Homo sapiens: one gene and its partners. The protein of the gene in region 2 purifies or fractionates together with the protein of the main gene of each other region. This does not show direct contact. Each region holds a gene or a part of one and is shown on either strand. Other genes may lie near its edges.

Region 1 (4,530 bases), on a different chromosome or scaffold from region 2:
TCCTGGCCAACGTAGTGAAACCCTTCTGTAGTAAAAATACAAATATTAGCCAGGTGTGGTGGTACACACCTGTAGTCTCAGGTACTTGGGAGACTGAGGCAGGCAGTAGAATAGCGTGCACCTGGGAGGCGGAGGGTACAGTGAGCTGAGATTGCACCACTGCAATCCACCCTGGGTGACAGAGCGAGACTCCATCTCAAAAAAACAAAACAAAACAAAACAAAAAAAAGATAAATATTATTGCAAAAGAATAAAAGAATTACTCTACTTTATAAGAATTTTATTTAAAAATATTGAACTCCCTAATGATTTTTCCATTCTTTCAATCCATTTATTCATCAATCATAACCTGAATACCTGTTATGTAGCAGACATAGTCTACTATCTCTTTTTTCTTTTTTTCTTAGACAGAGTCTCCCTCTGTTGCCCAGGCTGGAGTGCAGTGGCCAGATCTCAGCTTTACTGCAACCTCTGCTTCCTGGGTTCAAGCGATTCTCCTGCCTCAGTCTCCTGAGTAGCTGGGACAGCTAATTTTTTTTTTTTTTTGTATTTCTAGTAGAGACAGGGTTTCACTGTGTTAGCCAGGGTGGTCTCGATCTCCTGACCTTGTGATCTGCCCACCTCGGCCTCCCAAAGTGCTGAGATTACAGGCTTGAGCCACCGCGCCTGGCCTTTTTTGTTTTTGAGGTGAAGTCTCGCTTCTTCGCCCAGGCTGGAGTGCAATGGTGTGATCTCGGCTCAATGCAACATCCATCTCCTGGGTTCAAGCAATTCTCCTGCCTCAGCCTCCCTAGTAGCTGAGATTCCAGGCACGTGCCACCATGCCTGGCTAATTTTTGTATTTTTAGTATAGATGGGGTTCTACCCTGTTGGCCAGGCTGGTCTCAAACTCCTAACCTCAAGTGATCTGCCTGCCTTGGCCTCCCAAAGTGTTGGGATTACAGGCGTGAACCACCGCTAGTTATAAGCATATTAATGTAAGTGCGTAGTATTTTAATAAAATGTGGTAGAATATAGACTTGATCTTTGAATTGGAAACATAACAGTAGTGGACATGAAGATTTGCAGAGCTGATTTTTTTTTCTTTTTTTTTTTTTTTTGAGATGGAGTCTCGCTCTGTCTCCTGGGCTGGAGTGAGTTGGCATGATCTTGGCTCACTGTAACCTTCTCCTCCCAGGTTCAAGCAATTCTCGTGCCTCAGCCTCCCAAACAGCTGGGATTCCAGGCACCCACCACCATGCCTGGCTATTTTTTTTGTATTTTTAGTAGAGACGGGGTTTCACCACGTTGGCCAAGTTGGTCTCAAACTCCTGACCTCAGGTGATCTGCCTGCCTCAGCCTCCCAAAGTGCTGGGATTACAGGCATGAGCCACTGCACCAGGCCAGAGTTGATATCTTTGAAGTGAGGATTTTACTTCTATGCAAATTCTTTTCTGTCAGAGGTGAATCCCTATTTTAGTCATGAATATGATATTTATTCCCCTTTCACAACAGGAACTTCATATATATGTATATAAGTGCTGTGTGGTGTTCTAAACTATTTCAGTCTTGCATTAGCATTGTAATACATAATGTAGCTAATCTGCTATGAATTTGGGAATGCATTTTATGACAAATTTACAGAGCTGTCAGGGAAGATGGAAAGTTGCTGATTTCTCATATAAAACTGTCTTCATAGAGCTTGATGTGAATCTCCTGCACTTCTGGAAGCAGGTATTTAACTCATCCCCAGGAAATCAAGCCTGAGAGAAGTTCTGGTGAGCTGCTTGGCTCCTGTGTTGAGACTGGTCTGGTCTCTTAGCATTTGTTTTGGCAAAGAATGTTTGGATGTTTATAGAGGACAGATGAGAGCTCTGGTCAAGTATGAGAGCTGTTGGTGGGAGGGAGAATCCATTTGGGATCCCATATGAAAAGTCCTGTTAAGGGTGTGAGCAGGCCTTAGAAGAGGGTAATCCAAAGTGGATCTGTGGATTCCTTAGGAGCTAAGAGGAAAGAAAGGCCAGAGTGGAGTGCATTCATTCAGGTCAAGGCAATTGCAGGTGAAAACATAGTCTACTATCTCTCAGGACCTTTCCATCTTCAAAACCTTTATGTTTGCATACCTGCCCAGCCTGAGCAAGTTGAGAGATTTAAAATTAGACTATTAGGGCAATCTCAATTGAAGCTTTTCCTCCCTCCTCTTATTTATTTATTTTTTTGAGAGGAGATTATGCTCTGACACCCAGGCTGGAGTAAAGTGGCATGATCTCGGCTTACTCCAACTCTGCCACCAGGGTTCAAGTGATTCTCCTGCCTCAGCCCCCTCGAGTAGCTGGGATTACAGGCATGTACCACCATGTCCGGCTACTTTTTGTATTTTTAGCAGAGATGGGGTTTTACCATGTTGGTCAGGCTGATCTTGAATTCCTGACCTCAAGTGATCTGCCTGCCTTGGCTTCCCAAAGTGTTGGGATTACAGGCGTGAGCCACTGCACCCAACCCCTCTTTATAAACAAAAGTGTTTCTGAAGGTAGAAAATTATAAGAAATAACCTTTAATTACCCTTTTGAAAATTTATGTCTTAAACACGAATATTAGTCATTGGAAATATCTGCATATATTCTATAAATCTAAATATTGAATAAAATGAGCCAACCTATTCATTTGAATCCTGAGTTTCTTTTGTGTTGAAGTTTCTTGAAAACACAATAAGAATTACTTTGTTTTAAAAATCTGTTTTTCAATTTTAAAAATGCTTCCAATTATAGTTGTAATAAATCATGAATTACAAGTGGCATTCCAATGTCAGAGATATTGAAATGTGAGAAAATGAGCATCTTAGAATCACTGAAATACTGTGTTATCTCTAATTTTTTTTTTTTTTTTGTAGACAGGGTCTCTCTCTGTTGCCCAGGCTAGAGTACAGTGGCACAATCACAGCTCACTACAGCCTCAACCTCCTGGGCTCAAGCGATTCTTTGGCCTTAGCCTCCTGAGTAGCTGGGACCACAGGTGTTCACCACCATGCCTGGCTACTTTTTAAATTTTTATAGAGATGGAGTCTCACTATGTTGCCCAGGCTGGTCTCAAACTCTTGGACTCAAGCAGTCATCCTACCTCAGCTTCCCAAAGTTCTGGGATTCAGGCATGAGCCGCCATGCCTGGCCTTATCGCTGATCTTTAAAACATACTGTCAACTAGGTATAATTGTATCATTTCATTTAATTAAAACATCTTTATTAAACAGTAGTAATGGTAATTATATCTAACAATTATTGAGCTGTTATTTGTGCTAGGAACTGTTCTAAACATTTTGCATAGATTCTCATGTAAGCATCCCAGTGGTGTCCTATGAGATAGCTACTATTTTGATCCCCATTTTATTGATGAGGAAACTGAGGCACTTACTAAGCCATAATGAGTAAGTGACAGCTTAAAGTAGGATTCAACCCCAAGTTGAACTGAATCTAAAGGTCAAGCCTTTTCTATTCAGATAGGTTGCTCTTTCATTAATGTGGTGAGTAGTAAGAGCTAATAAATATTGTACTGTTTTCAGAAGAAAATTAAATACTTGTTTTGAAGGCGGAGGATTAACATGTGTATTAGTCTGTTCTCATGCTGCTAATAAAGACATACCCTTTATTATATGGGTAATTTATAAAGGAAAGAGGTTTAATTAACTCACAGTTCAGCCTGGTTGGGGAGGCCTCAGGAAACTTAACAATAAGGGCAGAAGGAGAAGCAAACATGTCCTTGACATGGTGTCAGCAAGGAGAAGTGCCAAGCAAAAGAGGGAAAAGCCCCTTAAGAAACCATCAGATATTGTGAGAACTCACTATCACAAGAGCAGCAGCACGGGGGAACCATCCTCGTGATTCAGTTACCTCCCACTGAGTCCCCCTCACCACACGTAGGGATCATGGGAACTACAATTTGGGATTTGGTTGGGGACACAGCCAAGATGAGATTTGGGTGGGGACACAGCCAAACCATATCAACATGCTATTTAATGTTTATAATTTTATGAACCATTGTATGTTTTGAGACAGTGCACTACAGTTTATAAAAAGTCCTGTCACTCTCATAGGACGGCTCTACATTTGGCCTGTGCCAATGGTCATCCAGAAGTAGTAACTCTCCTGGTGGACAGAAAATGCCAGCTCAATGTCTGTGACAACGAAAACAGGACAGCTCTGATGAAGGTATATAGTAGCCAGCTCTTTCAGCATCAGATGGATTTGACTTAAATACATAGAATGAAAATGAATTTATCTCATTAAAATATAACTAATTGGTGAAACCTGTGGAGTGTTTATTTTGCATTCCTAGAATTTATGATCTGTTTCTTGGTCTAATACTCCCAGGCTGTACAATGCCAGGAAGAGAAATGTGCAACTATTCTGCTAGAACATGGTGCTGATCCAAATCTTGCGGATGTCCATGGCAACACTGCTCTTCACTATGCTGTCTATAATGAGGACATATCAGTAGCAACAAAGCTGCTTTTGTATGATGCAAATATTGAAGCAAAAAACAAGGTATAGATCAACC
Region 2 (3,500 bases):
TCTCTTCTTTAAAATGTGGATAATGAGAGTGCCTCCTTCATGGGAAGATGGAGAAGGATTAGATATCTTAATGTAGCTAAAACAATAGGCACAATGCTAGGCATACATTAAGTGCTAATGAGTATTAGCTACAGTTATTATTTATCTTGCTGATGCCCACGTCCCACCCCAGACTTACTGAATCATGACCTCTAAGGTGGGATTCAGATCCAGCCATGGTTAAAAAGTTCCTCAGATGATTTCGATGGGAATTACTGGCCTAGCTACCAGGAGCTGCTCTCTATTACTGAAATATGCTGGGCTTGTATGTTCTTCAGCACATCTGCACCTTTGTACTCCTGCAGCACCTCTCCACACACTCAGTTTATCCTCCATATCTTGCATGCACCTCCTGTCCTGTGAGCAGCTTTTCACATCCCAGTCACCGCAGGTAGGTGTCCCTGTGCACCATGGAACTCCGTCCGCATTGGTTCACTGTGCTTCTGTTCCCCTCTTCAGCCTCTGTGTCTCACGAGGGCACACCTGCCAACTGACTCCCCAAACTTAGCACCATGCATGACACTGCCCTTAGGGAATTACTTGTTGAGTAGACGGATGAATACTGCTCACTGAATGCCTTCATTTCCACTTGACTCCTGCCCTGTGCCTACCCCTTTCCCACGGTGGCACCTGTGAGCCTTGCTTCACTCTTGAGTCCCAGCTTTGCCTGTGCTCCTCCCTCAGGTGGTGTCTCCCTCCCTACTTAAGAGAGAAGACTGCGGTCCTGCATTCTGAAATCCTTCCACGTTCCTTGGCTTCATCTGACAACGTTCCCTGCTCTGTCTCCCCTCTTACTTCTCTCAGATGAAGAAACAGTCACACCCCATGGTATTCTATCTAAACTCTGTTGGGATGCTTACACTGCATAGCCCCATTTTAAAAGTATTTCTTTACCTTCCGCTGCTGCCACTAGATTCTAGTGAATTTGAGATAGAGTCGTTGCCAAATTTGAGTTGTCAAATTTGTAATCTTAAGTGTAGTTTGTAAACTCAGCACCTGGCACACAATGAGTTCTCAATAAATGAAAAAAATGTATGGATACATGGTTGATGGGCACAATAAAAACAGATTTAAAATGTTTTCTTCCAACATCAATCACTATTGAGTGGTTACTGTATACCAGGCACACTTTCAAGCTCTGTGCTCATGCTATCTTATTATGATCATTGTATTCATTGTCCAAGCAAAAATACTGATGCTCAGAAAGGTTAAGTAATGTGCACAAGTCACATGGGTGGATAAGAGGCAGAGGCAGGATTTGAACCCACAGCACGTACTTTTTTTTTTTTTGAAATGGAGTTTCACTCTTGTTGCCTAGGCTGGAGTGCAATGGCACGATCTCCACTCACTGCAACCTCCGCCTCTCAGGTTCAAGTGATTCTCCTGCTTCAGCCTCCTGGTTAGCTGTGATTACAGGTGCCTGCCACCACACCCAGATAATTTTTGTATTTTTAGTAGAGATAGGGTTTCACCATGTTAGCCGGGCTGGTCTCAAACTCCTGACCTCAAATGATCCATCTGCCTCAGCCTCCCAAAGTGCTGGGATTACAGGTATGAGACACTGCACTCAACCCCACAGTGCATACTCTTAACCTTTCATTTTACCGCTTTCTGGATATGGAGGCTTCATGAGCCTCACATTCACCCACAATGACGTTTTGGTCATTCACATCTGCCCCGATTGACTGCACTGGCAGAGCAGTATAGCAGATTAATACTTCCACCCATTCAAACTGGCAATTCACATTTTCTAGTCTTTCCAAAGTGTCTAACGCCTATGCGCAGTCCTTTACTATTTTTATTTTTCCTTTAATCTCAGAGATCTGAATCTTTTTTTTTTTTTTTTTTTTTTTTTTTTTTATGGAGTCTTTCTCTGTCACCAGGCTGGAGTGCAGTGGCATGATCTCGACTCACTGCAACCTCTGACTCCCTGGTTCAAGCTATTCTCCTGCCTCAGCCTCCCAAGTAGCTGGGATTACAGGCATGTGCCACCACACCCAGCTAATTTTTGTATTTTTAGTAGAGACAGGGTTTCACCATGTTGGCCAGGATGGTCTCAATAGCCTGACCTCGTGATCTGCCCACTTCGGTCACCCAAAGTGCTGGGGTTACAGGCGTGAGCCACTGCGCCCGGCCAGACCTGAATCTTTTTGTAGAGTAGCCCAAGTTTATGGTTAAACATCAAGATTATTTACATTCTTGGTGTGGGTTTTGGTAGGCCTAGTAAAGTTTGGTCAAGAGTGTAATCCAGGGATTAGATACAAAGAAAAAATTGGAAATAATGTTTGGCCATTTGGTTGGTCCCTGAAAATGGTAACCTAAGGAAATGGTAGCATTTTGTGAAAGTGGATTTAAATAGCCAGAAGGGTTTAGTCTGAACACTCTGGCAAGTCATGGACCCAGTTAAGCACAAAGTACCTTATAGCCTTCTTTTTCTCCAGTTCTCTAACTCTACAGGGTTTAATGCCTTTGGAATTTTGGATTCCCAATTGTCCTTCCTTTATAGATGAAATAATAAATCTCTCAGATACATAGAACATTACCCACACATTTACAATGCCCCAATACATACTTGCCTAATGAAGTGTATCGTGTCAGTTTGGAAGCCTCAATTACACAGGGTACTTCCCCGTAGTTACATAAATTAATCTTGGTATTTTCAGGGCAAGAAACCAGATCTCTCCTTTTAGAAATCAACTTTACCGGATTAGTGATTCCTTTGAGGAGAATTTGGATGCATTGTAGAAGCCCAGTGGACTGAGTTCAAGAGGAAAGAGGAGAGTCCCAAGCCCATTTTGGAGCATACACTGGGAATAATAACATGGCAGATAAATATTACGGTGTTGAAAGAAGAGCTGTTAGTTCTGAAATGTGGGAACAAGTGTTACTGTCGAGACGCATGTCTGACAAACCGCTCCATAAAGGCAACTTGCTTCATTTGGCAAATTGAATCTAGAAACATAGAACTGATCCAGGCCAGCCCAAAAGGCATTTCTCAAATGGTTTCCATTGTCAGTGCTAACTGGTTTTGTAGCAACTTAAAAAGTCAAAGTAATACATGCTCATAAATCAGAAAATCCAACAATAGTAAATTGTTTATATATCTATGTATATATATGAATATTAGTACTAAACAATAGCTCTAACATGCTCATATATATAAACATTGAGTATGTGTTTCTCTATATGTGTATATATATATGTGTGTGTATATTTATATAAAATCTTACAGTCTCTTGGGCCACCCTCTCTACCCCATTTCTGAGTTTTTTTTTTCTTCAGCTGTTTTTATGTAATATTCCTAAATCATATGTTTCTGTGTGTATGTCAAAGTACTACTTCTTTATTATTATGGTAGATTATAATATATCTTTTTGTACCTCCCAGAGCATCCCTATTCTTCAATATAATTATATCGCAGTTTTAATTACATGCATAGTGCTTATTTTTGTTTTGATTAC
Region 3 (4,530 bases), on a different chromosome or scaffold from region 2:
TTATAACTAACCAGAGAAACAAACCGTATTAAAGCTGGACGTTAGGAGTCAACCAGCATCATATTATCAAGTGTGTAGTCATGACCCGTTAGTAGATTAAAACAAAACAAAACAATATCGTGGATTGGAGCTAGCATTTTTTTAATGGAACTAAATAGGATTGATTTGCAAATATCAAGTGTATTGAAGGTAGTGAGCGCTTTATTTTATTTTATTTTATTTTTGAGACACAGTCTCTCTGTCGCCCTGGCTGGAGTGCAGTGACGCGATCTCGGCTCACTGCAACCTACACCTCCCAGGTTCAAGTGATTCTCCTGCCTTAGCCTACTGAGTAACTGGGATTACAGGTGCGCGCCACCACGCCGAGCTAATTTTTTTGTATTTTTAGTAGAGATGGTGTTTCACCACGTTGGCCAGGTTGGTCTTGAACTCCTGACCTCAAATGATCTGCCTACCTCGGCCTTCCAAAGTGCTGGCATTATAGGCATGAGCCACCGCGCCTGGCCATGAGGCTGTTTAAAGTAAAACTTTGAAAAGTGAAACTTTTGATTCATTATATGTATACACATACACGTATAACACACATCTATTCTTTTTATTTAAAAAAATAAAAAATAAAGATAAATGTAAAAAATCAACCTTTGGGAGCACAGAACATGGAAAATATATATAGGTGTCCTGGTCAAAAGTTCAAGAGGTTCCTAAACTTTCTCAGTTCACAGACCCCTCAGTATGCCAGTTATTTTTTTCATGGAACCCCTAGGCCAAAAAAATACCTAACAGTTCCATTTACTAAGTAGTTCAGTCCACAACCTAAAAAGTATTTATAGCCTACCAACTTAGTAGCAGATCGAAAAATAAATATGTATAAATTGAAATAAATATTTTTATTACTAAATTACCACAACTACTTAATAGGATGTGTGTACCTACTAGATATTACACAAGTTCTCAAATCTTGAAATCATTTTGGACACCACCACCTTCATTTACTGTTCCAAATTGATTTTTGCATAGTACTTGCTTTTTATCACAGCAAACTCCCAAAACCTAGCGTTTGGAAGACACAGTGTCATCAAAAAAAATGGAACACAATCTCTTGTGTGGTATCTCAAACTGGTAGTTTGAGTAGTGTCCTATAGATGTCAAATATCCCACAGCTATCCAATATTGCTGTTTCCATTAAAATTTCTCAAATAATGCATAGTGTCCAGGTGAGTTACTATGGTGCTCCACAGTACGGCAGGTCCTCCATAACATAGTTTCATTCAATATCATTTCTTCACAATTTTGATGAGAAAAAAATTTTGATTTCCCCACCAGGGCTACCATCTATGTGGAGCCTGCATGTTCTCCCCATGTCTGTGTGGCTTTTCTCCGTATGCTCCAGTTTCCTCCCACATCAGAGAGGTGCACGCATTAGGTGAACTGACATGAATTGGCATGTCTATATGGTCCCAGTCTGAGTGAATGTGGGTGGGTGGGTGGGTGTGTGTGTGTCTGTAAATGCTACCTGCAATGGAATGGCAGCCTATCTTGTGCCCTACTTGCCGGGACAGGCTCCAGCCACCTGCCATCCTGAACTGAAATAAGTGGGTAATTATCTTGTTTTTAGTATTTCTTAAATGTATGCATAGGACCCATTTATTTCAATGTTTAATATTAGAGGTGTTTGGGGTCTTAGAAGTTGCAGTTTCCAAGTACTTATGGACAACATTAAGTGAGGATTTACTTCAGTGCACAGTTTAGGAATACTGGATTTAAGAAACACTGATCTAGCCTACGGGTTTACTTTGTAAAGTAAGAAATAAGACTTAAGGCTACAAAGCTAGGAGAAAAACAAATATATTTATTATAGATTTTCCTAAATTTCAACCTTCTGCCAACAAAAGTTTTTTTGTTTGTTTGTCTGTTTTGAGCCAGAGTCTTCCTCTGTCACCTAGGCTGGAGTGCAGTGGTGCAATCTTGGCTCACTGCAACCTCTGCCACTCAGGTTCAAGCAATTCTCCTGCCTCAGCTTCCCCAGCAGCTGGGATTATAGGAGCCTGCCACCATGCCCAGCTAGTTTTTTACTTTTAGTAGAGATGGGGTTTCCTTATGTTGGCCAGGCTGGTCTGAAGCTCCTAATCTCAGGTGATCTGCCCGCCTCAGCCTCCCAAAGTGCTGGGATTATAGGCATGAGACACCGCACCCAGCCAACAAAAGTTTTGTTTGTTTTGAGATGGAGTCTTGCTCTGTTGCCCAGGCTGGAGTGCAGTGGCAGTCTTGGCTCACTGCAACCTCCACCTCCCTGGTTCAAGCAATTCTCCTGCCTTGGCCTCCCCAGTAGCTGGGATTACAGGCCTGCCACCACGCCTTGCTAGTTTTCGTATTTTTAGTAGAGATGGGTTTCGCCTTGTTGGCCAGGCCGGTCTCGAACTCCTGACCTCAAGTGACCCACTTGCCTCGGCCTCTCTAAGAGCTGGGATTACAGGCGTGAGCCACCAAGTCCCAGCCCTTCCATCAACAAATGTTTTGACACAGGATCTAATTATGAGACACTCTGTTGATGAAATGTGTAGATCTCTAAAAATCACATTCAAAAATACATTTATATCACTATTTAATAGAAGAAAAAATTTACTTCCTTTTTTTAGAAAAAAGTTTCAAAAATTATAAAAGTGATTCTTACAATAAAACCATACAAAAATGTCTAAAGTAAAAAAGAAAAGTCATCCACTCCCTCAGGAATAACATGTTTAATGTCTATCCTTATAGACCTTTTTCTATTCACATGCAAAATGAAAACAAAACTACATTTGTCTATGTGTTTTTTAAATAAATCATATTCTATAGTATAGTGCAACTTATTTTTTCACTTAATTTTATATCATGAACATTCTTCCAAGTCAATACATAATTGTAACAGCAAACACTTATGTGGCGCTTATTAATGCTTATTTAGGGCCTAACTGTTAACTCATTTAATTCTCATGGTACCCCTGTAACATGAGAACTACTAGTATATCCAATTTATAGTTGACTTTAAGTAATTCGCCAAGAGTCACAGCTAGAAAGTAGTGCAGTTAGGTTTTGAATCCAGAAGGTCCACCGCATGGTTCCAGGAGCTGAAGGATATGCTCAGCTGCTGCTCATGAAGTAAATATAGATACCCTGAAACCTGTTAACAACTGCACAGTAATTCACAGCATAAAAATACTAGACTTTTAACTATTAGCCTACCAACAGACATTTAGGACATTTTTAAATTATTTATAAATGTTATTGACATCTTGAAATAATGCTAATATAAACATTCTTATACAATTCCTATGCTGTTAAAATTTATGTAACATAAATTTTAAGCAGGAAATGATTCTATCAAACAATATATATACTTTTAATCTTGATAGGGAATGCCAAATTTCCTTCCAGAAGGTTGCTCCAATGGTATCAATTTATAGTCCCAACTACAGAGGAAAGGGTTCAGATTCATTTTTAAGTTAACACTTTGGATTCATGAAAAAAAAGGCCCATTTTGAGTTTTTAATTAATACTGAATAGACTGCCAAGTTGATCACAATTATGTTCTGATTTTATAATTATCTGACATATTAAACAAATGTAGACTTAGCAGCTGTGCAATGGATTCTTCTCCCAGTTATGAAATCAACTATGCATGAGATATCGCCCCTATACAACCTTCTGTTTTCTTATGTATAAAATATGGGAATTGGACTAGCTGGCCTTGAAGAATTTAAACTCCCAATACTGAGATTAAGAAGTGACTTAAAGTTATTACAAGGCTATAATTATAGTACTAGTATAACAGGTTAGGGTCTTAAAGTTTATATTTTCTTTAAATTACCGTAACCTGTTGCCAGAGCACCTAGGCAAATCATTAAAATAGTAAATGAAGTTTCCACTGTGGCTTATTCCCAGTGGCTTTTTAATCCCAGGCTGTCATTCCCTTGCTACCCAGCAAATCTGAGCATATCTCTGGAATATATTCCCAAGAGTTGAGGTGTGCTTAGGAACTAAGAACTAGTCTTTTGTTTTGTTTTGCATTTAAAATATTATTCTGGGACTATTCTTTAGTCAATTTCTTCAATTAGTATTTATTGACTATGTTACCATATGCTAGGCACTGGGTGCATAATAGTGATTAAAGGATCTCTGCCATCATGGAACTTACAGACCAGATGAGAAAGGCAAAGAATAACTCAAAATAACCACAAGTAAATGTAAAATCACACTTATGATAACAATGAACAACAACAACAACAAATCAATACAGAAAAAAATACTATGCAATCTGATGATTTTTTTACACTATAACACTAAAATTTGCCTCATGTTGCAAAAATAACAATCACAATTATATGCAGAGAATTAACTTTTTAAATCATCAGTTGTCTCAACAATAAAATCATCAAGATATTACTACTTTTCAGTTATGTTACTGATCATGTGGCTTGAATGTTTGTTTTACATAACTAAGAGTATAAATGACTGAAAGAATAAAGATGACAGAACTGAGTATCCAAAGTG
Region 4 (4,897 bases), on a different chromosome or scaffold from region 2:
TAGTATTGAGATTGCTGAATAGGAAGCAAAGAGACAGCCTATGTCATTGACTAAGTCACTTAACCTCTCCTGGCCAGTTTTTTTGACTGCAAAAATTAGAGTTGGACAGGGTTGCTTCTAAGGCCTTTTCCAGCTTTAATATTTTATGGTTAAAATAGAAACTAAGACAAATAAATGTATGTTTTCAGAAAGATCAAAGGCATAAACATACCTCAGATTTACATCTCCTAAGGGGCATCATATACTTCCTTACACATAGCAGGTAGTCAGGAAAATATCTGTTGATTACATTTAAATTTTTTATGTGATTGGTTTCTTAAATAAGTAGATGGAATGAGTTATTTCAAAGGCCTTTTCCAAATGTTATCTTCTGCTTAAAATGTAATTTAAGCCACATAAATAGTGTAGTTAGATCAATGAGATTTTAAATTCAAGAACAGAAGTCTTATCTTTGATCTATGTATTCCCTTTGAAGCTTCATATTTTCTCCCATAGCAGGTGATCATGGAACTATCTCTGATTATAGTTATTATTATGGTTATTTCTTTGCTCAGCTTTTCAAGTAGAATTGAACATTTTTTTAATATGAAAACACTGAACTATTTTCAAAACCCATTATGAATTATATAATGTCTCTCCATTTCTTGCTATCTAAATGTACGTTATAAGAACAAGTGAACAATTGGGAACTGGGTACCCAAGTGAGTGAAATATTCTGTTCCTTAGTTTTCCTTAATGCGACTTTTAATTAGCTTTCCCATGCTTTAGATACTAAATTTATGAAGAATAAAAGTTAAAAGCCAAATGCTAATCTTGTATCACTGCTTGTCTTGTATACTACTTGTCCTAGGATTTCTATATTACAACTAGGAAGATATGAATTAAAACCACCAAAGAGACTATAACCATAAATAACTTATGACATATGTTCCATTATTAATTGAAAACTCATAGTTAATAAACTTTGGGAAGGAAACTTTCAGGCACATGGCATGGAATATGAAGGTGATGTTCTTTTTATAAATTTTAAAGGTAGCATATATTATACAAATTACTCAAGAGTTTACAAGCAGAAAAAAAGGAGAAAAAATAAAATTCACGCGCACCCTATATTAACATGTAATTCGTAGTGAAATGTGTGAAATATAAACACATGACTTTCACTTATTCATTTTCACTTTACGCTTTTTAATTGAAATTAAATTAGTCACTTAACATACATAATGCAGTGTTTGTTTTCCAGTCTAGTAGCTTTTCAGCATTCAGTTTTGTGGCTCATGGGAAATGTTACTTAGCATCAAGATGTGGTTTGATGAGTGAACAATGTCAGTATCAACTGTACTTAACAGAAGACAGAGGGGCTGGGGTTAATCTGCAGCTAACAACATATAAAAATAAAAACAAACACAGACCCACAATAACATCAACATGCATTATTAGGCAAAGATCCAAAATTAACCCAACCCACACAGATTTCTTCTAAGCTGAGATTACACATGGAAACAGATACTTTATCAAGATCCATAGCCATAGTAGTAAGGTTCATCAGGGCGGAATCCATATGCTGTGGCAGGGCGTCCAAGAATGCCAACTGGTTGGCCAAAGCCATCCATTCCAAGGCTAAAAAAGAAAAAAAAGAATGATAAGCTATGTTTTTCATCACACATCCACAATGCAGATTAAGAGGCCTACATTTTTATACCACCAAGATTCTCTTCCTAGCAGGGATAGTGATTTAGGTGGATATCATTAACTTTTTTTTTTAAGGTTAATAGAGCCATTAAAAGTGTATATAATAAAATACTTCTAACAATGTGTGTTAAAAGTATGGGAAACCTCTGTCAGTAGGTACTATTTGAAACAAAGTGGAAGAATCAAATCAGAAAAGTTTTATTTAATAAATTACTTATATATGGCTCTTAAGCAAAAATATGAAAAGATTTTACATGCTAGCAATGATCAGTAATATATTGCTAGGGAATGATAAAAATAAAACTGTAGTAAAGTGAGTTTTGCTGTTTATAATGTCTTTTCATATGAAGATACAGGACTAATTCCACTTTTAGTAAAAACATGTGTTTGAGTTATATCAGTGAACTCTCATGCAGGGCCAAATCATACCATAAGCCTATGATTAAAAGAACAAGATAAGGAATTTGACAAAATTTGAAAATTAGTCAGATTTGATCTGCAAATCCTTCCTCTGATTCCTCAATGCAAACAATTACAAAACATATCTATTTCTTTTGAGTGACAGCAAGACAATTACAAATTTTGGTTCAACTTATTCTATGGGAATAACAGAAACCCAAAGATAACCTTCAGAGTTGTAAAGATAGCTTGAAGTATGTTAAACTTCATGATTATTATTTTAAAAAAATTACTTGTTGGTCTATTAATACATTATTTAGAGGAAAATCTGTTCTCCAAAGTCCTTTTTAAAGGTCAGGGAATTATCCAACACTTAGGAAAATGATAAAGTATTTATTTTGCCAGGCAGAACATGGTGGCCTTAACATGCTCATGCATAGCTCATGCAGTGAATGCTAGTGAGCTTGACTTCCAATCAATGGACACCATTTGTAATGCAGAAATGTAAGCTTTGGAAAAATAAAACATATTTAAATGATTTAAGATTTAAGTTTGCACTACATGAGATGGAAAGATAATTTTCCCTCAATAGCAAAAACTGAATGTGATGAAAAAATATATTCACATAGGCACTAACTCCCTGTCACACTCAGAGTGAGATTAAGTTGACACACTTTAGAAGTAACTATTAAAATGTTAAGGTTTTAAATAAATGTGTGAATGCGTGTGTGTGTTTGTGTGCACGCGTGCTTGTGTGTATTAAGATGGAACTAAAGAGTAAATGTAAAGAGCCAAAATACATATAACACATACTGGTCCAGTGACTCTGCCCTTTAGGAGAATGGAAGTTCTGAAATACAAGTTTCAGGTTAGCATTTGTACTGAGCGATTCTGGACAAAATTTGTTGTTTTGGGGTCCTTCTATATAAAAACTCTGTCTATAGTTTCTCAAAGTTGGTTGAAATTTTTAAGTCTACATTTTATTTTGAAATGGTAAAAATATAGGCACTTTTTCTAACTTTGATCTCATGGGAAGAGAGACTAAATTTTGTGATGAGGAAATCAAGAGGTAGCTTAAAAGATGCTTCAGAAATTAGTGGAATCAGTGAACTAAGAGACACTGGTATCAGCTTAAAATTAGAGAAGTTATTGAAAACTGTTCTCTGCAAGCACTAAGGCTAACAAGTAATCATGTATCTAAAGAACTCTCAATTATATAACTGTTGATTACATAGCTTGGATTTCAACTTGTTCCTTCTTCATCTTTTGCTTATTACCTGTCTTCAACCAGTCCTTATCTTTTTTAGCAACTCCTCTGAGGCCAAATAGCAGTAGACTTAGGTTAAACTCAAGTTAATCTTATGCTTGTTTCTCAATCTAGGGGCTATGGCAAGATCTATTTCAGTAATATGAAAACAAGAGGCATATGTGGGACAGTGAGGAAACATGCAAAGGCACCTTCAGAGTATCTCACAGACGACTTGTTAGCAATATCACTGTAATTCTACCTAAAAGAAGATGGTCCTCAGAAGGGAGTTCACCAGTCATTGGCACAGAACAAGGAGCGTCTCAGCTACAACGCTGGTTGTAGCAACCTAGGCAATTGCGTGGTGATCTGGTAAGCTATAACACCATAAGGAATATCTGGCCTTTTTGCAGTTTGGTCCTCAATCAGGAAGGGAATTTAACATTCTCAGAGTCTGAGGCCATTCTACATTCAAGTTGCAAAATTCTCCCCCTTTTTTTTATTTCTACGACTAATAGGCAAACTATTGATCACTGTAATTTCCCATGTAATTTGCCAACAGGTTAAATAATAAACTTAGATATTACCTAATCCACCTGATGGTTATAACTTTCATTGTACATTAACAAATGGATTTTTCTTTTTAAAATATGTCATGCACATTGTTGATAAAAACCTGCAGTCCCAAGTCAGTGAAAGACTGGCCCTTGAGCACTGATGAGTCTGAGTTTCTGAACCTGTAAATCTCTGGTCTTGAACAGTATGGTCTTTAGGTTACTATGGTAAAGATCTATTTATGTAGTCAGCAGTTCACCCAGAGACATCTGTGTGTATTACAGTGTAGAGGATATCATTTAATTTTTCGAATTTCTATATACAAATATCGTTTTGGAAAAAAGGAATAAAATTTGAAACCAAACTCTAAAATGATCTTTTCTGGAATTCTCCATTATGTATCACAGATGAACTTGCTGTTTAAAGCAAAAAATATTTAAAACATTTATGATCAGTTTGGAGAGTACTTTGACATAGGTCCTAGGTCCTTTTGTATTATGAAAAATCAACTATATCTACATACATTTTTAATTAAATTCACTGTGAAACATAACAGTTTGTTTCTTTAAACTCTCATTTGCTTCTTTCTAATATAGTGGGGGAAATCAGGCTTTCTAGGATGCTAAAACCTGGAGACATTCTTTTGGAATATGTAGACACTTTACTTTTTTCCTTGGGAAAAGGATACAGCCTTGCTAATGCTGAGTTTAGTTCAAAACCCGGAGAGTTTTCCTTTAAACAGAAGCAGATAGATTCTTCATGTAAGTTCTTGAAAGAGATAGAAACTATGAATATAAAAAGGCAACGTTGCAGGAAAAATTGTGCTTTCCTGATCTGGAAAGACTTGACTTCAATAGTGTGTATCACAGGAATTTGTATGCCCTCACTAGGGGCCCTGAGAAGCAAGGAAAAGTAAGCTGTGACATGCCACATCTGCTCTTGCCTTGTGTGGCCATTTTGCTTCAGATAATAGTTTGAATATGTGGCTATTTATAAGTATACTGG
Region 5 (4,930 bases), on a different chromosome or scaffold from region 2:
TATAGATAATTGCCCCCATGGGACTTGAAATACAACACCTTGTGCTGAAAACTTCAGGTTGGCAATATTTGAAGGTTTCGTTGTAGAAGAGTTTAACATTAACTCCTATTTTGACTTACAAATCTTGTTTCTCATCACTAAAATGCTTTTGAATTAATAATCCAACCCACATGAGCTGAGAGTTTTTCTTTTGTTAGAAAAGAAACAGACATCTTTCTGTATGAAAGTATAAATTGTATGGTTTTAGATACATAAGAATTGACAAAAGCGAGCGAAATCTTTGTACTTCTGAGTTCTTGCTGTATGTATGTTTTGTTTTAAATCTGATTAGGGACACCCAGCAGCTGGCCGGGATTCTTGGATTGCTCCTTGGGAGTTAAGATTGTCAATACTCCTGTGAAGCAAGGGATTTCAGCCATAGAACAAAGATTTATTGTTGCCACCTGAAAAGTTTACAAGTATTTATTGTGTATTTGATACATTGCTTGAAAAGATGAAATCTGTTAAAGATTCTTTTCGATGTCCAGGTTAAGAAGAAACCTCCTTGTATTGAGTGAAATTATATGTTAAATGTATTAGAGAATGTAGGTGGTATAGAAATTGATTTTTCTTGGTGTAGAACAACTCAGTTCGGCAAAGTTTAAAATTTGATTAAACAAGAGAAGTGGTTCAGGTTGAAGATGGACTTGTTAGGAAGTGATCAAGTCCTTTAAGTACTTGTTTCTTTTTCAGGTTGTGATGTGGCCATTCCGAATTTTGTTGAGAGTTTGGTTTATAATTGTCTCTTTTGTCTTGTTAGTAAACATTCATTTGCAACAGTTTTGAAGGTGCTGAGTGGAAAACCGAAACACATGGTTATTGCGTATTGGACCTAGAATGAAATAATTGCCTCAATATTTAACAACAAGCCATTCTTATCTCAAAGATTTAAATTCCCGAATGTCCCATTCGCAAATCATATGCAATTGAAGTGAGCAGCATGAGCATCTGGGTCATGAGGGCCTTCATTTACGTAAATTTGTCACTAAAACCCAGTAGTAGCTCTACAAAATCTTAAACTGCTGCAGTGCTCAAGGAGATGGAATATCTTTGTCATTGGTGCTGAGGAGAGCATTTCGGTAGAAGACAGTTGCGCCTGAAGATTGAGTGTAAATCATTCAAACCAGTGGTTCTCAGTGTTGGCTGTATACACTTTGTAGTCACTTTGGAATGTTGGAAGACACATCGATGCTTGGGTTCCGTATGCCAAGATTCTGATGTTGGTCTGGAATATGAGCTGGTCATAAGGATTTTTAAAAACTTTCTGGTCATTTCAATATGCTGCCAAGGTTGAGAACCACTGTTGTAAAATTCACCTTGAGTTTTCTCATCTGCAAAATAGAAAAAAAAAAATCCTTGCTCCCTCCCTTCACTACCTCACAAGGATATTGAGGGTAAAGGAGAAAATAATGGGAAAGTGCTTGTGCCGTGGATGAAAAGTGCTATTAAAAGTCAAAGGAGTGTTCTGTTTCAATTCATAGTATGATCAGGGAAAGTGTAACTGAGTATACTTTGTTGACTTGGGAAACCTGGAGCACTTTCTTTGGTTGGTTAACGAAGCATGCAGATGTGGAAGCAGACGTTACTATTATCCCTACTATGGTCTTCTGTCATACTGAGACAGGCTGTTTTAATTACCTGGTTTTACATAGGAAAGAAGAAATATTAAGGCTTAAAGTTTGTAATGATCAATGGCTCATAATTCATTAAATCTTTTCATACAAGGAATTTGTGGTTAATGTCATTTCATAGTTGCCATTATTTTCTCATTATTTGACTTAAATGTTAAGCCATTTATTTCATCTCCCTCATTCACATAAAGTGTAGATATGGATTCAATAAGACACCAAAAGAAAGTAAGATTTACCCAGTTAATATTTAAAATCATTGTTCAGTGATTAGGCATTTTCTGCCTTTTAGAATTATTTGACTGGAGAAAGAGTTTCAAAAATAGCAGAGCCCTAAACCATAAAGAAACTACTACTGTATAATGAACTTTTGTTTGTTTTTGGAGACAGGGTTTCACTCTACTGCCTAGGCAGGTCTTGAACTCCTGGGCTCAAGCAGTCTTCCTGCCTCAGCCTCCCAAGTAGCTGGGATTACAGGTGTATGCCACTATACCCAGCTTTAACTTTTAAATCCCCAAACTATGTAGATTGTCATATTAATATTAATTTTTTTTTGTTATTTTGAAGAAGTGAGTAATTTGAAGAGATAGAAACTTAGGGAGTGGTGTGTGTGTTTCTTTTTTGGAGACAGAGTCACGCAGGCTGGAGTGCACGATCTTGACTCACTGCAACCTTTGCCACCCAGGTTCAAGCAATTCTCGTGCCTCAGCCTCCCGAGTAGCATGTGCCACCACACCTGGCTAATTTTTTTCTTTTTTCTTTTAGACGGAGTCTTGCTCTGTTGCCCAGGCTGGAGTGCGGTGGTGTGATCTCAGTTCACTGCAACCTTTGCCTCCCGGGTTCAAGTGATTCTCCTGCCTCAGTCTCCCGAGTAGCTGGGATTACAGGCACCTGCCACCATGCCTGGCTAATTTTTGTATTTTTAATAGAGACGGGGTTTCACCATGTTGGCCAGGCTGGTCTCGAACTCCTGACCTTGTGATCCACCCACCTCAGCCTCCCAAAGTGCTGGGATTACAGGCATGAGCCACTGTTCCCGGGCCTAATCTTTGTATTTTTAGTAGAGGGGGTTTATGCCATGTTGGCCAGGCTGGTCTTGAACTCCTGGCCAACACCACCCACCTCGCCTCCCAAAGTGCTGGGGTTACAGGCGCGAGCCACCGTGCCAGGCCAGAAATTTAAGGAGTTTTAAAGGTTAGCATTGAAAAGATTACTTTCCAGAAATTGAGACCACCACAGTTCCACAATTGGGACTGTGGTAGATAATCAGGACCACTTGGAAGCCTTTATTAGGAACAGCCCACACCCAGCCCAAATGCTGTCCTCAAAAACATTCCTCAGTTTCTCTAGCTGAATGTAATCTCTCCTTGAAATTTCCCTAGTTTTATATATCTATAGTTGACTCATGCTGTATTTATTTATACCTTGTTTAAAATTATTTATTGATTATTTATTGGTGTCATATCGCCCCTAAACTGGGACAGGATCTCTAACGGACTCATCTTTGTGCCACAACATGTAAGCCCAATAGGCAGGTGCTCACATATTTGCTGAAGGAACAGAGAAAGAACTGCGGAGAAAGACAAAAGCTCCTCTGAAGTTTTAGACTATAGAAGCAAAAATTATAGTAGCAAAAGATGAATGAGAAATTCTGTTCTAGTCCCAGTGAAGCAGGAAGGAAAGGGTTGCAAACTTGAGGCTGGTAAGGAAGAAATAATTACTGTGAATGCATTTAGCCACTCCCCTCTACTCAAAAATACTGGTAAACTCTGATTTTTATATTTGTTTAGAATTTAAATTAGAATTCTGTATCTTTATTTTTTGGAATTCTGTTGTTTTGCCTTAGTTTCTTAATAAAAAGTTAAACATTAACCACCTGTGATTGCTTACATTTAAAGACATTTTTTACACATTGGTTAGAAAGAAAAATTGGGGTGCCTTAATAGCCAGAGGTGGTGATGGAATTTACCTATAAATTCCATGGCTTTAATAATAGAATCCACATTCCCCATGTTTAGAATGGAAAGTGGACAGAGAACAGTAATTCACTAGGGTCTTATTTCCCAATTGCCTCTACCGCCCCCCACCCCACCCTCCTGCTGACATTTGTTTGATAATGCAGTTGTTTGCCAAGAATTATGAGAGACAGGCATGCTATTCCTGAACTGGCTGAATACACGGCTCCTGTGATCCAAAAGCTTAAAAGAGAATCAGTTGATGATGTTGCTAAACAAGTTGGCTGATATGTTAAAGTTCAAAGCATTTTAATTTTTTTTTTTTTTTTTTTTTTTTTTTTTTTTTTTTTTTTTTTTTTGAGACAAAGTCTTGCTCTGTCACCCAGGCTGGAGAGCAGTTGATGTGCTCTCGGCTCATTGCAACCCCTGCCTCAGGTGATCCGTGTGCCTCGGCCTCCCAAAGTGCTGGGATTACAGGCATGAGCCACCGTGCCCAGCCCAAAGCATTTAAATTTTATAAAAGAAAAATAGGTGTAAATGTTCTGTATTTGCCGCTTTGTTTAGTGGAAAGAGACGCCAGAGACAGCTTTACCAGTCTGTTGTCCTGATTTCTTTTTTGGATCCTCCCTCGAACTGTTTGCTTCTTATTTAATGTGTTCACTAAAATACTGTTGAGAGCAACATGTTCTCTAGTCTTCAGAATAATAGTTTGCTGAAAGAAGTAGCCCTTTAAGATTTAAGATTGTTATTCAGCTTTTGTATGTAGGATTTCATGATGAGTGGCTCAAGAAGTAGGAATCATTTGGGGAGTTTCCTTAGGTCACCCTGTTGATAGTGTTTAATTTCTGTTTAAGGCAGGAAAACATTAAGAAAAGATTAGAGAAGTCAAGTCCTGTCTATGATATGATATGATACTTGTACACCATGTTATATTTCTGCCCCCTTTCCTGTATAAATAAAATGGGGATAAAATCAAGTAATGGTTTTGAGGTCATAGCTCCCTTAAGAAAGTCTCCCTGAAATAATGTATTAAAATTCTAGCGTCTCAAGTTAGATTCATTAGAGGCATATTGTAGTGGGAACAGACCAGATATCTTTGTTTATTTTAATATAGCTAACTTGTTCATATTCCCAACCCATGTTTAAAGAGCATATGATTGATCTGTGCCCCCTTGTTGGTCATCTTCACCTTGGAAGGAAAGGAGGCTTAAGGTTGCAATGAGAGTTGTTGATGACATCTCTAACCCCTCAGTAGGCCAAAGAGTGATGTAGTTCATGATCCAATTGCCCAGAATAGCACGGACAGAT
Region 6 (4,530 bases), on a different chromosome or scaffold from region 2:
TCACAGACGACCCCGTCCAGCGATGAGAATGTTGGGTGCACACTGGAGTGGCTGCGAGTCATGACCTGGAGACTTCGGAAACTCAACAAGACTGCAGGGCACCCAGGGGCACCAGCCCCGGTCACCGCAGAGGATCAGTGCACTTTGCCATCTGGCAGATCAACTCATGGCACAGCTGTGACACATCACATTCACGCTTGTGAACCGAGACGCCATACCCCAGCGGTGCCGAGAGCAACAGTGCTGTGCAGGTCTGGGCAGATGAGGGCCTCCAGGACACGAGGACTCACTCGCTCACCCTGCCCACTGGGCAGCTGCTCGCCACTCCCCTCCTGGAGGGCAGGACGGACACCACACACACACACAAGCAGGGAGGCTGTGCAGCAGTGGGGAGAAGGCATGGGTGGGAGGGTGCCGCTCCACCCAGGGCAGCATCTGAGAGAAGGTGAACGAGGTGCGGGACAAATGCCGAGGACAAGAGCCAGCAAGAGGGTGGGGCCAGGTGGGTCTGCGGGTGAGTCCGGAGTGTGGGGCCTGCAGATGAGTCCGGAGTGTGGGGCCTGCAGATGAGTCCAGAGTGTGGGGCCTGCGGGTGAGTCTGGAGTGTGGGGCCGGGTGGGCCTGCAGGTGAGTCTGGAGTGTGGGGGCTGGGGTGGGCCTGCGGGTGAGTCTGGAGTGTGGGGGCTGGGGTGAGCCTGCGGGTGAGTCTGGAGTGTGGGGGCTGGGGTGGGCCTGCAGGTGAGTCTGGAGTGTGGGGGCTGGGGTGGGCCTGCGGGTGAGTCTGGAGTGTGGGACCGGGTGGGCCTGCAGGTGAGTGTGGAGTGTGGGGGCCGGGGTGGGCCTGGGGGTGAGTCTGGAGTGTGGGACCGGGTGGGCCTGCAGGTGAGTCTGGAGTGTGGGGGCCGGGGTGGGCCTGGGGGTGAGTCTAGAGTGTGGGGCCGTGGTGGGCCTGCAGGTGAGTCTGGAGTGTGGGGCCGGGTGGGCCTGGGGGTGAGTCTGGAGTGCCGCAAGGCTGGGGAGCTGGGCAGGAGCGTGACAGGAGTGTGGGGGAGGCTGCAAGCCAGCAGGGCGTGCAGATGGCTGCATGGGGGCGTGAGTGTGGCCCCATGGGCACCCGAGGCCTTGGACTGCACAATGTGAGGCCGCCTCCAAGGCTGGGAAGGGAGCCTTGTGCTGGGGTTGAATTCAGCCAGGGCTGAGGCCCATGATGCCCCAGGTGGGAGCCACACACATGTGGGTGGGATTTAAGCCGTGGAAAGAGAGAAGACCCCTGGTTAGACAGAAGCAGGGAGGAGGTGGGCTGAGGAGCCGTGGCAGGGAGCAGCATGGGAGGGAGGCCTGTGGGGCCAGGCGCATGGCTGGGCATGGGGAGGCTGGGCCCGGGACAGGGCCATGGGGCACAATCCTCTCGCACAAGTCCTGCCTGAGAGGTTCTCAAGTGTTGTCATCTCAGTCAAATGGAACACGGACGCCACCTTAACCCGAGTCAGGTGAGGCTGTGCTCCCACAGCAGGATCTGGACAGGGGCAAGGGCGACGGGCCCAAGTGCTGGTCTGGGAGGCTCCAACTGCCATGGGCCCCCACAGCAGTGGACAACTGCCCGATGGCAGAGAGGCCGCCCCAGCTAACCTGGCCCAAAGGTGCCAGAGGGCAGCACCGCCCAGCGTCTGCTCAGCTGTAGCCACAGAGGGCAAGGGTGCCACGTGTTTCTACAGGGTGCCACAGAAAACACGGAAAACGCACCCCGCCTGAGATAAAGGCAAAGCTCTCACGAGGAAGCAATGGAGCATGTGTCAGCGCAAAACCCGGGGTACAGGTATCGGGCGGGAAAATCCTAAGCAGGATGTGTGCAGACACCACAGGGAAATGAGAAGAACCTGGAGAGCCGCTTAGACACTGACTTCCTGCCTTCAGAAGGCTAAGTCCCAGGTGCGTTTCCACAAAGGGTCAGGGCCTCTCAGCTGGGGAGGAGGCCCTCACCACAGCGCAGACACACACACGGGGTGGGGGAGAAACACGCACATTGGGGGGGGGGGGGCACACACACGGGAAGGGGACACACGCACACAGGGGTGGGGACATGCACATGGGGGGAGGGGGACACGCACACGGGGAGGGGGACACACACACACACTGGAGGGGGGACACACGCACACGGGGGTGGGGGGAGGGGAACACAAGCATACGGGGGTGGGGGGAGGGGAACACAAGCATGTAGGGACACAGGCATGCCGGGGGACATGCCACAGGGCGGCTGGCCATAGGCCTGGGGCCAGCTGGGGCGCTGTGCCTGCGTCTGGCGGGCACCCACCTCGATGCCGCTCTGGCGCGCCAGCTTGACAGCCGTGTTGTAGTAGCCGCAACGCAGCAGGTGCTCCACCATCATGCGATCCATGCGCTTCCTCTTCCACACGCTGGCCGCCGCGGGCTGGTCGCTGCTATGCTCTTTGAGGTGCTCGATCCGGCGCTTGCACAGCTTGGCGCTCTCGTCCTCGGCCTGGATGGATTCCACCGCCTGAGCCACACACAACAGAGGCACGTTCAGGACAGGGATGCCCCGCAGCCCTGCACCAAGGGAGGCCAGGCTGCCCCAATCCACAACACTCACAAGGAGAAAAGCAGGGATTACGGGACAGAAAAAAAACCGTGCTCTACCGAGTCCGCTAGGCAGGTGTGCCTGGCCCAAGAGCTGCAGACGGAGGCAGTGAAAATCCACCACCCTGGATCTGCAGCTTCTCTCTGCTATTTCTGGCTTTATATTAATATACCCTGAAGCCATGTTGCCAGATGCATACAATTTCAAATTTGCTATGCCTTTCTGGTTAAACTGTTTATCATTATAAGGTGACTTTAAAAAAATCTTTTGCAATACTTTTTTTCTTAAAGTCAATTTTGTTAAAAATGAATCGGGCTAGATAGAAACGTTCCAGGCCTGTGCTGCCCAACACAGCTGCCACCAGCCCACGTGGCTGCCACACACTTAAGGGCAGTGGTGCAACTGAGGAACTGAATTCTTCGCTAAAAATTTGACAGCACACACGGCGACTGACTACTGGACAGATCCAGGATCCGGGCTGGCTTCTTTCAGCACATTCTACCAATTTTGGCTTCCAACTGCTGTGCAGAAATCAGCTGTCCGGCTGTCTGTTGCCCCTTTGGAAGTCATCTTTTGCCCTCAGGAGCTTTTCAAATATTTCTTTGTCTCTGTTTTCTTCAGTTCCACCACGGGAAAATCCCATGTCGGTTTATTTTCACTTACTCTGTGTCGGATTCTGACCTGGTGGTACTCATCAGTTCTGAAACCTTGGTCACTCTCCCCGCACCATCTCTGTCCCCACCCACTGGTGGGCTCTGGTGAAACATGCCACAGGTTTCTGCTCTATTCCATGCTTTACTCTCGCAGCCACTTTGATTTTTCAGTCTCTGTGCTCCATTCTCGATCACCCTCCAGTTCACTAATTCTGTCTTTAGCTTTGTCTGTTAACTGTTAAACTGTTATAGGCAAATGTTGAGTTTTTCATTTTTGGTTATTATATTTCCCATTTCTTGAAATTTTAGTCCCTTTTAAATTCTGAATTTTTTTTTTTTTTTGGAGACAGAGTCTCTGTGCAGGCTGAAGTGCAGTGGTGCGATCTCAGCTCACTGCAACCTCCAGCTCCTGGGTTCAAGTGATTCTCCTGCCTCAGCCTCCCGAGTAGCTGGGACCACAGGCGTACACCATGCCCGGCTAATTTTTTTGTATTTTTAATAGAGACGGGGTTTCGCCATGTTGGCCAGGCTGGTCTTGAATTCCTGACCTCAGGTGATCCGCCTGCCTTGGCCTCCCAAAGTGCTGGGATTGCAGGCGTGAGCCACTGTGCCTGCCCAATCACTTTTTTAAGACAGTGTCTCACTCTGTTGCCCAGTCTGGAGTACAGTGACACAATCTCTGCTCACTACAACCTCGACCTCCTGGGCTCAAGCGATTCTCCTGCCTCAGCCTCCCAATTAGCTGAGACTACAGGTGTGTGTCACCACGCCTGGCTATTTTTTGTAGAGATGGGGTTTTGCCATGTTGCCCAGGCTGATCTCAAACTCCTGGGCTCAAGCAATCTACCTGCCTCGCCCTTCCAAAGTGAGCCACAGTGTCCAGCCTTAAATCACTTTTTATACTGTCTGTTCCCTGCAGAGACTTTCAAACTTTTTTTTGAGATAGGGTCTCGCTGTCGCCCAGCTAGAGTGCAGTGGCATGATCGTGGCTCACTGCAGCCTTGACCTCCTGGGCTCAAGCAATCCTTCTGCCTCAGCCTCCTGAGTATCTGCTGGGGCTACAGGAGGGCACCAGTACGCTTGGCTATTTTTAATGTTTTGTGGAGATGGGGTCTCCCTGTGCTGCCCAGGCTGGTCTCAAACTCCTGCGCTCAAGTGATTCTGCTGCCTCAGCTTTCCACAGTGCTTTCCAGGTGTGAGCCACCGCGCCCAGCCTGCTTCTGTTCTTTAAGCACAGTAAGGTGTGGCACCTGGCAGCCCCTGCACCTGCAGTCCGTGCAG
Region 7 (4,530 bases), about 100 Mb from region 2:
TCCCTTGAGACGAAATCTCACTCTGTCGCCCAGGATGGAGTGCAATGACGTGATCTTGGCTCACTGCAAACTCCGCCTCTCGAGTTCAAGTCCTGCCTCAGCCTCCCAAGTAGCCGGGATTACAGGCATATGCCACCATGCCCGGCTAATTTTTGTATTTTTAGTAGAGATGGGGTTTCACCACGCTGGCCAGGCTGGTCTCGAACTCCTGACCTCAGGTGATCCGCCCACCTTGGCCTCCCAAAGTGCTGGGATTACAGGCGTGAGCCACCGTGCCCAGGCTCAATTAAGTCTTTTTCCATGATTTTTAAAGGTAGCAAAGACAAGACATCACCATGAACTGCTCTTCAATTGTTAGACATTTGGGATGCTTCTGATTTTTTGCCATGTAAAGCACTGTGATGAACATCTGGAAAGACAGATCTCTGCACCCGCCTTACTCAATCCCATTGGTTTAGTTCCTGGAGTATACAGCTGGAGTCAAGGGCATCCACTCTTCAAAAGCTTTTTATATACATTGTCGAAAGGCCCCATGGAGGTGTTTACAGTTCATCATCAGTGTGGGCACTGTACCTATCCCGGTACTTTAACCAAAATTGGGTATTTTTACTTAACAAATCCTTGCCAATGTGCTACATCTTCTGAGCCTTTCCATTCTTGAGAAAATACAGCAGGCTGGACAACAGATGGGTTTGAATCCTGCTTTGGGACTTGCTATTTCTGTGACCTCAGACAAATGACTTGACCCTTCAGGCTCCTCAATTCCTCCCCTTTAAGTGGGGCCCACAGGGGCACCAACTACTAGGGTTGCAGAATGAAAAGACAGCGCATGGGAGGGTTTGGCACCGGGCTGACACAGACCACACATTTAGCAAATGCGTGCTTGGTATCGCCTCTTTCTCCTGAATTGTCAAACTCTGCCTTTTCCCTTTGTCCCTGTCCATCTGCTCAGGTGGTCTTGCTCAGAACAAACTGGCCCACACCTCCCCTGCACTGGCCTCCCTTTCCCACCCCCCATCCGCACTCACATGCACAAGCTCATCTCAGACAGGACCTGCGACCTCCGATTTGCCAGGTATCATGGTCCCCGCAAGCCACGGATGGCTTTCCTTTTAAAGCGACCTTCAGACGCACGGTGGAAACAACTGCAGGCATTTTCCTTAATGGATGTTCTAATATTTCTCAGATTCGTGCTTTTAAAAAAGCTCTTACTTTTAAAACTTTTTGATAGAAACACACTTCAAATAACTGCTTCTCTCTTCGAACTTCATTTCACCACACATTTGAAAGTAAAACTTAAACATTCAAACATAAGGAGGTACTTTAAAGAAGAACCTCAAGATACCTGGAGAAGAACCCCTTCCCTCACCCGCAGGACAGGCTTCCAGAGAGGCCGCAGACAGACTTTTGATCTCTCCCCTGCCTGCTATGCTGCTGAGTGGACTCTTGGAGGGGGCGCTTCCTTTCCCTTTTGTCTGGAGCAGTCCTGGGCTCCTGTCTCCCTTCCCGGCCAAGCCGACCCTGGCTGGCCTCCTCCCTGCTTTGCCTCTATTCCAGTATGTTCAAAATGGTCTGGCCAGATCCATCTCCCCAAGTGGAGCTCAGGGTCCATCTCCTTCCTGCTCTAAAACTCCAATGATGTCTCTCTGCTTACAAATGAAGAACAAAGCTGGAAAAAGTTTCACTTGGCACTCACACTCCAACTAGCTTCTACTGGTTTTCCAGCCCAAAAAGCATCTCTAATCCTACAACCACCCAGAGAAGCTCTCCTCAAGCCACTCCCTTTGCTCACAGTGATTCCTTCGGCCCCTTCCCTGTACAAACCCTGCCCATCTCCAGAGCCCTGCTGACACGACAGCTCCTGCATGGGTGGCAAGACCGCCGCATGCCCCCGATGGCTCTCCCCAGCGCTTAGCTCCATGGTCAGCAGGTTGGTGCCTTGTCCAGTGCATTTCAGGCTTCAGGATGGCAGGACCCACCACGCCATGCACGTTTGACTCCTGGGCAGCACCCAGCCTGGTACCAGCACCTCTTACCTTGTTTGAACTGAACTTCCTTCTCTTCAAAACACTACTTAACAAAAAAAATCTGAAGGGAAGAAATTTACTGAATGTCTCCAATACTGTCTCTGGGCTGGGACTGCAACCATGAAAATAAGTCCCTACTCTCAAGATTATGAACAACAAAATGACTTTTTCAAAGGGAAAGTAATAGTATGGATTAGACAACGGAAATCATGAAATAAAACTGGGGTACTCGATGGCACAAAGCAGTAATTACAACTTCTATCAGTTCAATCAGAGGCTTTAGTGGGTAATGGATTTAAGACCAAAAAAAAACAAGACATCATTTGATGGCAAAACCCAGAACATATGATTGTGAATTTAAAAAAACAATACCCAAGAATCTCTAGGCAGGAATGAACCAATTATATTCTATTTTTATGAAAAAAAAAAAAAATCAACAAGTGATCACTGATTAAGCAAAAAGTAAGCCAGCTGCCACGCCTAGTTAATTTTTAATTTTCTGTAGAGACGGGTTCTCCCTGTGTTGCCCAGGCTCGTCTTGAATTCCTGGGCTTCCTAGATTTGGCACAGGCTGTGGGTGTGGGGTTGAATCCTTTGCACCTCAGGTATGACTGCTGCTCATCGGATGCCTAAGGCAAGGAAAGACTCACAGAAACGCACCCTGCAGCCAGGGGTGAGGCTTGTGTGGAAGGCACTCTGTTAAGGTAAAATCCAAACAAAATATCTCAATTTCCTAAAAGCAGTTAACTCTTATCTGCCAAACAGGACAGATGTGAGTCCCCTGCAACCCGGGCCTAGTGGGACCATGTGGTCTCCAGCTACACAGCGCCAGCCCCTGCTACCACCGCACACACTTACTCTGGGTCTCGCAGTCCACACAGTGGGAGTTCCCGCGCATGTTCCGGATCGACTGCAGGGCCATGGCCTCGCTCTGGCTCGTCAGCCGGGACTGGGCACGGAGGAAGACACAAATACAAGGCGTAAGCACCCCGGGAGAAACGCACATCACTGATAACATCAGGGAAAGATCAAACAGATTGGGAGCAAATGTAGGACGAGGGTAATTTCTAAACAATCACTCTTGTTTTGATGTCTTTGGGAAAGAGCATAACTGAAGAAGAAATCATCATGCATGGGGCGGGGGGAGGGAGGAAATGTCACATTTTAACTCATCAGCTGAGACGGACTCTGCCAGAAATGAGCAAAGAGGAGAGTTCTGGATCATCTGTGAATACGCATGGACCATGGTAACCTGGAGAAGGTAAATGGGTAACCTTCTGGGCAGTAGCCACATGTCTACTTGGTAAGAAGAATGAGAAAGAAATAATCCGTTTATAAGCCCAGGGTTAGGGCTTCATCAGCAATGTAAGACATATCTCATGGTTCCTTGTCAGAAAACCCCATTCATACCACACGTCACCCTGGGAGATGCACATGTCATCTGAAGACCCTCGGTTGCCACAGTGACAAAGCCACTCGCCAGGGTGGGGGCAGGGAGAAACACGAGTATAGCTGGGAGTGCTGATTCTTAACCTTACACTTGATGGCTTGCTTTATTTTTATTTATTTATTTATTATTATTATTTTTTGAGCCAGTGTCTCGCTCTGTGGCTGAGGCTGGGGTGCAGTGGTGTGATCATAGCTCACTGCAGCCTTGAACTCGTGGGCTCAAGTGATCCTCCTGCCTTAGCCTCCTATAGTGTTGAGATTACAGGTGTGAGCCACCACACCTGGCTCTATGGTCTTCTTTAAAAAGGATTTAAAAACATACATGCTCATTGAAGCAAGTTTAGAAAATACAGAGAGGGGAAAAAGAACATAAAATTAATAAACAATCATACGGCCATCCATAGTTAAGCATTATTAACATTTTGATGTCTGTTCTTTTAGCCTGTTGTTTAAGCACATCTACATACACATATGTACTTTAAAAAGCCAGCGTAATACATATTGCTGCATAGAAACCTGCCCTTTCCAGCCTAACGAAACTTGTTCATTGCTCACTGCTGTCACATACTCTCTGACATCATCATTTTAAATGGCTGCATAGCATTCCACTTAGTGAAGACCTACTTATCAAGTTCTCTTTGATGGACATTTAAGTTGCTTCCAATTTTTCTCTATCATAAACGATGCTGTAAGAACATATGATTGCTAAGTCTTGGTACACACTCATGATTATTTACTAAGAATAGATTCCTGGAAGTAGAAGTTCTAAGTGAAAGGATATGTACTGGATATGTACCTTTTTCCCCACCTAGAGAGAGGGTCTTGCTCTGTTGCCCAGGCTGGAGTAGTGCAATCATAGCTCACTGCAGCCTCCATCTCCTGGGCTCAAGTGGTCCTCCCACCTCAGCCTCCTGAGTAGCTGGAACTACAGGTGTGAACCATGCACCTGGCTATTTAAAAATTTTTTTGTAGAGACAATGGTCTCCCTATGTTGGCCAGGCTGGTCTCGAACTCCTTGCCTCAAGTGATCCTCCCACCTTAGCCTCCCAAAGCA

The links.
Region 1: the proteins of NCKAP5 (region 2) and ANKRD26 purify together in Homo sapiens (affinity purification with mass spectrometry; one large-scale study listed by BioGRID and IntAct). This does not show direct contact.
Region 3: the proteins of NCKAP5 (region 2) and CEP350 purify together in Homo sapiens (affinity purification with mass spectrometry; one large-scale study listed by BioGRID and IntAct). This does not show direct contact.
Region 4: the proteins of NCKAP5 (region 2) and KIFAP3 purify together in Homo sapiens (affinity purification with mass spectrometry; one large-scale study listed by BioGRID and IntAct). This does not show direct contact.
Region 5: the proteins of NCKAP5 (region 2) and FBXO45 purify together in Homo sapiens (affinity purification with mass spectrometry; one large-scale study listed by BioGRID and IntAct). This does not show direct contact.
Region 6: the proteins of NCKAP5 (region 2) and MAEA purify together in Homo sapiens (affinity purification with mass spectrometry; one large-scale study listed by BioGRID and IntAct). This does not show direct contact.
Region 7: the proteins of NCKAP5 (region 2) and AGAP1 purify together in Homo sapiens (affinity purification with mass spectrometry; one large-scale study listed by BioGRID and IntAct). This does not show direct contact.

What each region holds. Positions count from the first base shown.
Region 1 is NC_000010.11:27,093,336-27,097,865, reverse strand, and holds part of ANKRD26 (ankyrin repeat domain-containing protein 26), read left to right. Parts: intron 1-4,066; coding exon 4,067-4,181; intron 4,182-4,343; coding exon 4,344-4,517; intron 4,518-4,530. UniProt on the Homo sapiens protein: Acts as a regulator of adipogenesis. Involved in the regulation of the feeding behavior.
Region 2 is NC_000002.12:133,561,964-133,565,463, reverse strand, and holds part of NCKAP5 (nck-associated protein 5), read left to right. Parts: intron 1-3,500.
Region 3 is NC_000001.11:179,957,140-179,961,669, reverse strand, and holds part of CEP350 (centrosome-associated protein 350), read right to left. Parts: intron 1-4,530. UniProt on the Homo sapiens protein: Plays an essential role in centriole growth by stabilizing a procentriolar seed composed of at least, SASS6 and CPAP. Required for anchoring microtubules to the centrosomes and for the integrity of the microtubule network.
Region 4 is NC_000001.11:169,920,162-169,925,058, forward strand, and holds the end of KIFAP3 (kinesin-associated protein 3), read right to left. Parts: intron 2,942-4,897; coding exon of another isoform or gene 2,905-2,941; intron 1,621-2,904; coding exon 1,515-1,620; 3' UTR 1,168-1,514; downstream 1-1,167. UniProt on the Homo sapiens protein: Involved in tethering the chromosomes to the spindle pole and in chromosome movement. Binds to the tail domain of the KIF3A/KIF3B heterodimer to form a heterotrimeric KIF3 complex and may regulate the membrane binding of this complex.
Region 5 is NC_000003.12:196,585,521-196,590,450, forward strand, and holds the end of FBXO45 (F-box/SPRY domain-containing protein 1), read left to right. Parts: 3' UTR 1-3,539; downstream 3,540-4,930. UniProt on the Homo sapiens protein: Component of E3 ubiquitin ligase complex consisting of FBXO45, MYCBP2 and SKP1. Functions in substrate recognition but also plays an important role in assembly of the complex.
Region 6 is NC_000004.12:1,313,382-1,317,911, reverse strand, and holds part of MAEA (E3 ubiquitin-protein transferase MAEA), read right to left. Parts: intron 2,516-4,530; coding exon 2,312-2,515; intron 1-2,311.
Region 7 is NC_000002.12:236,039,197-236,043,726, reverse strand, and holds part of AGAP1 (arf-GAP with GTPase, ANK repeat and PH domain-containing protein 1), read right to left. Parts: intron 2,977-4,530; coding exon 2,886-2,976; intron 1-2,885. UniProt on the Homo sapiens protein: GTPase-activating protein for ARF1 and, to a lesser extent, ARF5. Directly and specifically regulates the adapter protein 3 (AP-3)-dependent trafficking of proteins in the endosomal-lysosomal system.